Linked DNA regions of Homo sapiens: region 1 is linked to region 2. Evidence: fine-mapped expression QTL. A gene starts in region 2. The other region holds a variant in brackets. All regions are shown on one strand. Distances are from middle to middle. Region 1 overlaps CRNKL1 (crooked neck pre-mRNA splicing factor 1). Region 2 holds the start of NAA20 (N-alpha-acetyltransferase 20, NatB catalytic subunit).

The links. PIP is the estimated chance that this variant, and not a neighbour inherited with it, causes the effect.
Region 1: its variant is the best candidate, but not a certain one, in a credible set for the expression of NAA20 in whole blood (INTERVAL, PIP 0.63).

Annotation. Positions count from the first base shown.
Region 1 is chr20:20,038,843-20,043,237 of GRCh38, reverse strand. It overlaps CRNKL1 (crooked neck pre-mRNA splicing factor 1), which reads left to right. Exons shown (of 14, transcript NM_001278628.2): 8 at 722-913; 9 at 1,613-1,672; 10 at 2,472-2,552; 11 at 3,390-3,629. Among named protein-coding and RNA genes, the nearest start is that of CRNKL1, 11 kb to the left of the region's middle. The variant A/G (reference allele first, on the strand shown) is at 2,581.
Region 2 is chr20:20,015,233-20,019,627 of GRCh38, reverse strand. NAA20 (N-alpha-acetyltransferase 20, NatB catalytic subunit) reads right to left here and starts at 2,266. Exons shown (of 6, transcript NM_016100.5): 1 at 2,179-2,266. The coding sequence starts at 2,231. RefSeq lists enhancers at 1-1,003, 1,465-1,965, 2,580-2,759 and silencers at 2,020-2,139, 2,190-2,259.

The DNA.
Region 1 (4,395 bases), 24 kb before region 2:
AGAACTGGAGCAAAAGAAATGTGGAATCCATTCGAGCTCATTGTTGGAAGAAGGTGGAAGAGTCAGAGATTGGTCCAAAAACCTGTTTTGCACATCACCTTTGAGCTTAACTGCCTGAACAAAAGATGTATGCTAGACAGGGTTCCATCGGCATCTCTTTTTCTGTAATGTACTATTTTGATTTCAATTCAAAGAGAGTGTCATTTTCCTTCAGTATTCTGTTGTGTATTTAAAAATACTCTTCCTTAGTCAAGTTAATTAAGATACCTCCAAGCAAAGGACTAAGTCTGTTATTAAATGTGGTGGTAGGTTAGCAAGATATGTTAAAGATGAATTGCTATTAATTGGAAAGGCAAGTTTAACAATTGTGAGCATGATACGATTCTGTTGTTACAGACATAATGATACATAGTCACATATTTAAGCAAATGCATTGGCAAGAATAGGCATCTAATTATTGACTGTCGTGAGAGTGATGGCTATAGATGAAGGAGTCCTTGCTGTGGGACACCTGGCCAGTAATCTATCCTCTGTATTCCTGTTTCTTTTCTATTTATGCAGTCTCAGGGATGGTGTTTTTAAAATGAAAGAACATGTAACATTTAGAAGAAAAGGTGCTAAAATATAGAAAGTCAGCCTGATGCCTTTTTTCAGCTTGCTTAACCTGGCAAGTGCAGCTCTTGGTTTTGTTTTTTATTTATTAAACTGGTTGTCTTTCTAGGCGAATCCACACAATTATGATGCATGGTTTGATTACTTGCGCTTGGTAGAAAGTGACGCAGAAGCTGAAGCCGTGAGAGAAGTCTATGAAAGGGCCATTGCCAATGTCCCACCCATTCAGGAGAAGAGGCACTGGAAGCGCTACATTTATCTTTGGATCAACTATGCACTCTATGAAGAATTGGAGGCAAAGGTGAAAAAACAGAATTATGTGTCAGCTGATAATGGTTTCCTGTCTTCTGTATTCACAGCTCACCTATTGTGGATGTTTGTAATTCTTGAAAGAAGGAAATTTAGTTTTAAATTTTTATAGGCTTCTGTTCATCCATACAGTTATATATTCGCTCTGCAACATTTTAAACCCTCTGTGCTTGTTGTGGCCACACGTGAGGGGCTTTTTTAACTTTGGTTTGATTTTTACTTGAGGCACAACAAGATATCACTTGGAGCTTGAAAGAGAACAGTGAACCAGCCCTTAATTTAGTGAAATATAGTTTCCTGGATTTGCTCATTAATAGGAGTAATTCTGGCTAGATTATGCATTTTTGCTTTTAGCAAAAATCAAGTGGCATTTTCAGAAATCATTTGTATTAACCTTCTGGGTTTGATCTGAGACTATGAAACATCTTTGTTTCTTTCTGCCATCAGGCAAAACGGCTTTCTACAAAGAAGGGCTTAGAAGTTTGGTGGCTATCTTGTTGGTGATTCTTAAACTGAAGTTTCATGGCCGTTCATACTTTAGATCATAAATCAGGGTTTGCAAGTAACAACTTGTGAAACATGCTGTTTTGGGGGTGTACATTTTTACCAATATCAGTAAAATTAGTAACTAGTAAAATGAGTGTTAGCAGCAGACTTCAATATTTTGTGAAAATTTCTTATCCTAATACAGGATCCTGAGAGGACAAGACAGGTGTATCAAGCCTCTTTGGAACTAATTCCTCACAAAAAGGTATGTTTGCTCTAAAGTGTTCCATTTCAAACAGGTCAGAATCCTCTTCTGTTACTTGTGAAGTAATTCAGTGAAATAATATTGATTGATAAAATGCTTCCCTGTCCCACCATGGACAACATAAATAAGACTGAGATATGCTCCTTGCCTCTGAAAACAGCTCACAGACTAGGTTGGAGGACAACCTGCATTGACAAACAAATAATATAAATTCAGAGAAGGCTAGGTAATGTGAATAGTCTGAGTGGAAGGAGAAAGACATCCATGCAGAGAGCACACAACGTGTGCGGGGGACACACAGGCGGGTTTGTTGGTAACAGTGAGTGTGTGCATGCACAGATGAATGTGCCCCTTGTGTAGATGGTTGAGATGTTACCTCCGCCTTGTTTCCCAGCACGAGAAACAAAACGTGTTTCCTTCTGTAGAAGTGTTGACTGAGTTACTTTTCAGAATAGAGGTAGGACATTCTGCCCATATACAAGCATGCCTACAAAACAAAGTCTGTTCTGAGCAGAGGCTACCGTGCCATACAGTACAGTACAGTATCTGGATCATGGTTCTCAGGAGAGGTTACCATGCCATGCAGTACAATATAGTATCTGGATCATGGTATGTGGGTTTCTAACTTTTGTGAAATGAATGTGGTCTTTGCTTGTAAATAAGCAGAGTACATTCCTCTTACTCTGAAGTTTTAGAGAAATCGAATTACCAATGGCTTTGGTTAATTTAAATTAATTTTAATTCAATTTAATTTGGATGAGGCTTTTAAGCTAGATATTTTTGTGCTTTTGTTTTCTAGTTCACATTTGCCAAAATGTGGATACTGTATGCACAGTTTGAAATACGACAGAAGAATCTGTCATTAGCCAGAAGAGCATTGGTAAGTAAAGAAAGGATCAAGATGTCTC[A/G]TCAAGTTCTATGAGAAAGAAATTAAAATCTTGGTGCTTGGAAGTTGTACAGTTCCTACTTTAAAGAGTGACAGAAGTATTATACCTTTATAGCCTGGGACATGTTAGAAAACATGCGTCCTCTGTAAAAACACTGACTAATAATGCGTAAATTATTCTTATTACCTGGGGCAAATTAACATTCTGTTTCAATATTGGAAACTTCTATAGCTACCAGTTACTAAATCTTTCCACAGACTGGAATTAGTAATCTGATCCTGTGCAAACTTTTTGGTGTGTTAAATGCACTTTTAATTGTTCCACTTTTTTTTTCTTTTTTTTTTTTTTGTTTGTTTGGTTTTTTTTTGAGACAGGGTCTCGCTCTGTTCCCCAAGCTGGAATGCAGTAGCGCGATCTTGGCTCACTGCAACCTCTGCCTCCTGGGCGGAAATGATCCTCCCATGTTGGCCTCTCAGAATGCTGGGATTACAGGCATGAGCCACCATGCCTTGTCCTTTTTATTTATAGGAGGTTTTATGCATTTGACATCCCTATTCCCTAGGAGATCCTGAGAAACTTTCAAATCTTATTTTATTTAGTTGCCCAAACAATTCTGGAACACTGCCTCTTGCTGAGTGAATTAGAGGAGTTTCCTTCAGCCTTTTGTCAAGAACCAGTAAACATTGTGATACCACAGAGGGAAAGAATGGTAGGCCATGTTGACTTTGCAAGATTCTTCCTCAGCAGAGAACAGCCTCTAGGGCAGTGCAATAACTGCACAGATTAAATCCACTACAGTATCACAGTGGTCTGGTTATTTTATTTTCCAGGGAACTTCCATAGGCAAATGTCCAAAGAACAAATTATTTAAAGTTTACATAGAATTGGAGCTACAGCTTCGAGAATTTGACAGATGCCGGAAGCTTTATGAAAAGTTCCTGGAATTTGGACCTGAAAATTGTACCTCATGGATTAAATTCGCTGAATTAGAGACAATCCTTGGTGATATTGACAGAGCACGGGCAATCTATGAATTAGCCATCAGTCAGCCACGTTTAGACATGCCAGAGGTGAGCATCTCAAGTCAAATATAATTTTGTTTGAGATACGTGTTTAGTCTTACTTTAGATGACCATCTAAATGTGGGTGTATTTTAGAGTATAACGATGATCTAACTAACTTAGTCTCTTCTACTCAGATTAGGCTTGTACGTGGAAAGGTGGCTGTGGGGGACAGGGGAAGTAGCCCTCTCATTAGATACCAGAGCAGTAGACATCCAGGATGATGCCCAGGATGAACTGGGATATCATGGGGGTGGGTGACGCCCCTTCTGCAGCAGGAAAGCCTAAAGGGGCTGGGGAAGAGGCCAGGCAAGGAAGAAGCCAGCAGGCTGGCCCACCCGGAGAACGAGGGGGATGGAGGTAGGAACTGCACATCCCTGTATTCTCTAAACCAGGATGTCCTTGCAACTTCTGTTGTCACTGTCCTGAAAGTCCTCGCCTGCCTTCAGTAGTTAAGCTTGACCCACAAGGTAGCACCAAACCACAGCTAGGAAAGATTTGAATCTCACATGAGTCGTAGAACTCACCCAGCCGTTTTGTTAATCTCATGCACTAACATGACCCTGCATTTAATGGTTTGGCCCCCTGATTGCATTAATTAAGGCAGGGCTTTGGGTATCACTGAGTTCATCAGTTGTCCTCGGCTCCTCCACCAGACTGCCAGCTTTCAGGTGTCCATGCCACGGTTTATTCATCCTTATTCCCTGCCAGGCTGCACCGAGCCAGTGCGCACCTGTTCAGTGAATGCTTGTTGCACTGAACTCTCATAATAACA
Region 2 (4,395 bases):
GGGCAACAGAGCGAGACCCTGTCTCAAAAAATAAAAGAAAATGGGGAATAAGTGGAGTTCCCCTACTGGCACCTTCTGAAGAGGCCACATGATTCTCTGAAATCTAATATTTTCTTGCAAGTGTTCCTGTGTATTTTCTTTCTATTCATTTCCATGTAAAACTGTTGTCCTTTCCTAGATCTTCAGTTAAAACTGATTCTCCATGAGGCTCTGCCTTTTCTTGAAGCTTCAAGGCACCCTGTCACCTCCCATGCTGCACCTCCCAAACTGAAGCCTCTGTCAAGTCATCGTCTCTGGGCCACTGCCAAGGCCTCCTGAATGGCTTACCTGCCCAGTTTACCTGCTGTCATCACATGACAGCCCACAGAGCTCAGTGGTTAAGAATTTGAATCCATCACCTGGATTCTACAGTGAACACTTTGCTACACTGGCTTCATCATTTCTCTCTGCCCACCTATCAATCCTAGATCCACTTTTAAAAACAACAGGGCAGTAAGTGAAAACGAAAAACCAAGTGGTTCCGATTCAAGGGTCAGGAGGATAGAAAGGACTATGGGATGAGATGGCTGGGAACACTTTAAAGAGAGGGTGAGCCTCTCCAGAGGCTCCAGGTGGGTTAAGACCCACTCCAGAGCAGTGGATCGCAAACGGAATGTGCGTTTCTAACATGGTCCCCTGACCACAGGCACCAAGTCTTTCAGAACCACTGCTCCAGAGCCAATATCCTTGGATGAAGTTCCTCGCTTTACTCATTCTCACCTGGGCCAATTCACTTGTGCTTGCCATGCCTTGGTTTACTCATACACAAAATGGGGGTGACAGCACCTCAAAGAATCGTGAGGATTAACTGGATTATTACGTGGGCACTCAGAACAATGCAGGGAACAGTGAGTTCAACACAAGTCACCGTAGCTACCAGACTGGCCCAACAGAAAATTCTTTCCACAGGATCAAGTCTAAACCCCTCCTGTTTCACCCATTTCTTCCTGACTGCTCAGTGGCAGAAACCAGCCACTAGATTCGCACTGATCCCAGTTGTCTGACCGCACTTCAAGTTTCCCCATTTTCATGCCCCGCTCCTTCTCCGGAACTTCCGTCTTCCTCACTTACCAATGTGTTATCCATCTTCAAGGCTCACCCCCTCTTTGAAATGTTCCCAGCCATCTTATCCCATAGTTCTTTCCATCTTCCTGACACTTGAATCGGAACCACTTTGTCCTTAGTTTTCACATACCGCCCTGTTGTTTTTTTAAAGTGGATCCAGGACTGATAGATGGGAAGGAAGGAGAGATACCAGCGTAGCAAAATGTTAACTGCAGAATCCAGGAAAAGTGTCTATAAAAGCACATGGTGAAATTCCTCCAACTTTTCTAAATGTGTGGGAATCTTCATAATAAAATGTTTTCTTAAAAAAAAAAAATTGGTACCTGCAAATCAGAGGTCTGGCCTTAACTCGAATCCAAAGAAACTGCATCCAGGGCTCTGGGCACAGCGAGCCTCCCCTAAGATCTGCCGTGACTCCTCACAGAGGAAAGGTGTGTACACCGGGGTGCGCAGCTACAGTAACTAAACTTGCAAACACTAACCATGACTGAGACAGCATCTGCTGCAGGGGACGCAGTGATCAGTGTCATTTCATTTGGATACAATTTAACCACGGCCACCAGGTGGGCTTCACGATGTACACATCCCAACAGCTGCTGACCAGCTTCCGATCCTCGCAAGCCCCCTCTGCGGCCTGGCCGTCGGCGGTGCCCTCTGCCCAGAAGAGGCGCGGCCCGGCCACGAACCAGCAAGCAGTAGGGCAGGGCGAGAAGCCCAGGTCGTGGGCTCCAGGCCGCGTCTCCAGCTCGCCCCATCACCCCAGCGCCTCCTGACAGCGACCACGAGCGGAGGCCCGAGCGCTGCCCCAGAACCTGCCAGCTCGCAGGGTCCAGAGACAAAGTTTGAGCACCTCGGCCAAGGTCGCCAAGGCCGGCGTGCGTCGACTCCAGGCCCACCTCTCCCTGGACCCTGTGGCCCCAGGGAGGCGCCCACGTTGGCCGGCGGGGGGTGGTTCTCGCGGGTCCCCGTCCGGGCTTGGGGTCCGGCCGGGAAGGCGCGGCTGGGGCCGGAGCTGGCGGGGCCGGGAAGCGAGGCCCGGCCAAGAGCGGCTGGCCCTAGGCGCGTGTCACTCACATGTTGTTGAAGCGGAACAGGTCGTCGCAGGTAAAGGCCCGTAGCGTGGTCATCGCGCCGCCGCCGCTTCCGAAGACCGTTCGCCAAGACCCCGCGCCCGCCCTGCCGGAAGTCTCCCGGAGCGTGGCCGCCGCGGAACCGAGCGAGACGGGGTACTGCTTCCGGGCTACGAGTTGCTGGGCAACGACAGCAGCAAAGCAGCTTCCTCTGGCGGCCGGCGGCGGGAATTGCCAGGTCGCTCCTGTAAGGCCTCCGGGGCTGTGGCTGCCCAGAACCTCGGAACCCCTCCCAGGCAGCGGCTGCAGAAAGCAGGCGGCGACACCTGGGAAGGAAAGAAGCTGCTGGTGATGCGGAAACCCAAGCAGAAGAGCGGAGTTCGCAGCCACCCGGTGCTGCAGAGTAAATGAGGAATGGGAGAATTTATGACCCAGAATCCCTTGTCCCAGTGTTGCGAGTTGCAGATGTCATCTTAAAATGTCAATACCACGTTTAAAAACAAAAAGAAGGCCGGGCGCGGTGGCTCACGCCTGTAATCCCAACACTGGGAGGCCAAGGCGGGCAGATCACTTGAGTTCAGCAGTTCGAGACCAACCTGGCCAACATGGCGAAACCCCCTCTCTACTAAAAAAAAAAAAAAAAGGAAAGAAATAAAAATTAGCTGGGCGTGGTGGCACGCGCCTCTAATCCCAGCTACTTGGAGGCTGAGGCAGGAGAATCGCTTGAACCCAGGAGGCGGAGGTTGCAGTGAGCCGAGATCTCGCCACTGCACTCCAGCCTGGGCGACAGAGCTAGACTTGGTCTCAAAAATAAATAATAAATAAATAAAAGCAAAACGAAATGTAAAATTGATTTTGATAGTACGCTTTATTTTACCCATTTATTTTTCCTATTTGGGAAAAATATTTTTCCCTGACCCCACTTTATTATACCCGAAATATCATTTCAACATGTAACCAATCAATACTCAACATGTAATCAATCAATAAAAAAAGGAATGTGATATGTTACATTCTTTTTTGCAAAGACTTTGAAATCCGGTGTGTATTTTACATTTGCAGTGCATTTCAATCTGAGAGAGCAGCTGTCATCGGAAATGCTTGTTCTCTATTTAGATTTCATCAATGTATGGTTAAAAAGCAGATTCTCATATCCAAGCGGTTCCAAATATACTGTTTTCAAATCGCTGAACCAAACATCAGTTTTTAAATTTAAAGTAGTTAAAATTAAAAGTTAAAAATTCCTTTATTCAGACCAGACACAGTGGCTCACACCTGTAATCCCAGCTACTTGGGAGGCTGAGGTGGGAGGATCATTTGAGCCCGGGAGGTAGAGGTTGCTCTGAGACATGATTGCACCACTGCACTCCAGCCTGGGTGACACACCAAGACCCTGTCTCAAAAAGATAAGATAAAGAGAGATAAAATACATAAAGCAAGCAGGAATGCTGAAATGTATTTACACATGAGTGTTAAACTGGTCAATATCCACAGAGCTGTAATCACTGTCTCTCCTGGGCACTGTATAACACTATGCATTTGTATTTTATGGACAAGAAAAATTTTCATTACTATCAATTTTCCTCAGCTTACAAATTTGTAAAATTTTGTATTGTCAAAGACAATAAAAAGCAGAGAAAACCTGGAAACGTGTACTAAACAGTAATCTTTTTCTGGCCATTTCAAAGTGTTTCATAATTTTTTGTGTGTGACATGAACTAATGTTGATTTGAATTTTGTTCCTTATGAAGTAGTGAAGGTTTTTATAATATTTTTGGCTCTGATTCATTGGTATTATAAACATTAGAAGTTTATAGCTACTTTATGTTTGTATCTAGGTAATGGTGGAATAAACATGATTTTGATTTTTAGAAAAAAACACTGTGGGTTTAACACAAAGGTAGCATTGGAACCCTGCAGAAACTGGATGCTGTAGGCCAGCAGTTTGCAAGCACCGATACGAATTATTATTCCGATTTTGAGGCACAGATCAGAAATATCCTATAGCTACGTGGCCATTCCAACACATGGGGTCAGGGGAACGTGCAGGGCAGTACAGAGAATATCCTGGATATTCACCAGCTGGTTCTCCCTTCTCTCCTGTTTGTCTACTTATTTTTAAACTGTTATCAGTTTCCATTGCTGATTGCCTCCTATGAATTAGCATCTCGAAGGGTGGCCAGTAAGTGCCTAGCAAATATTGATTAAATAGCTGAGTGAA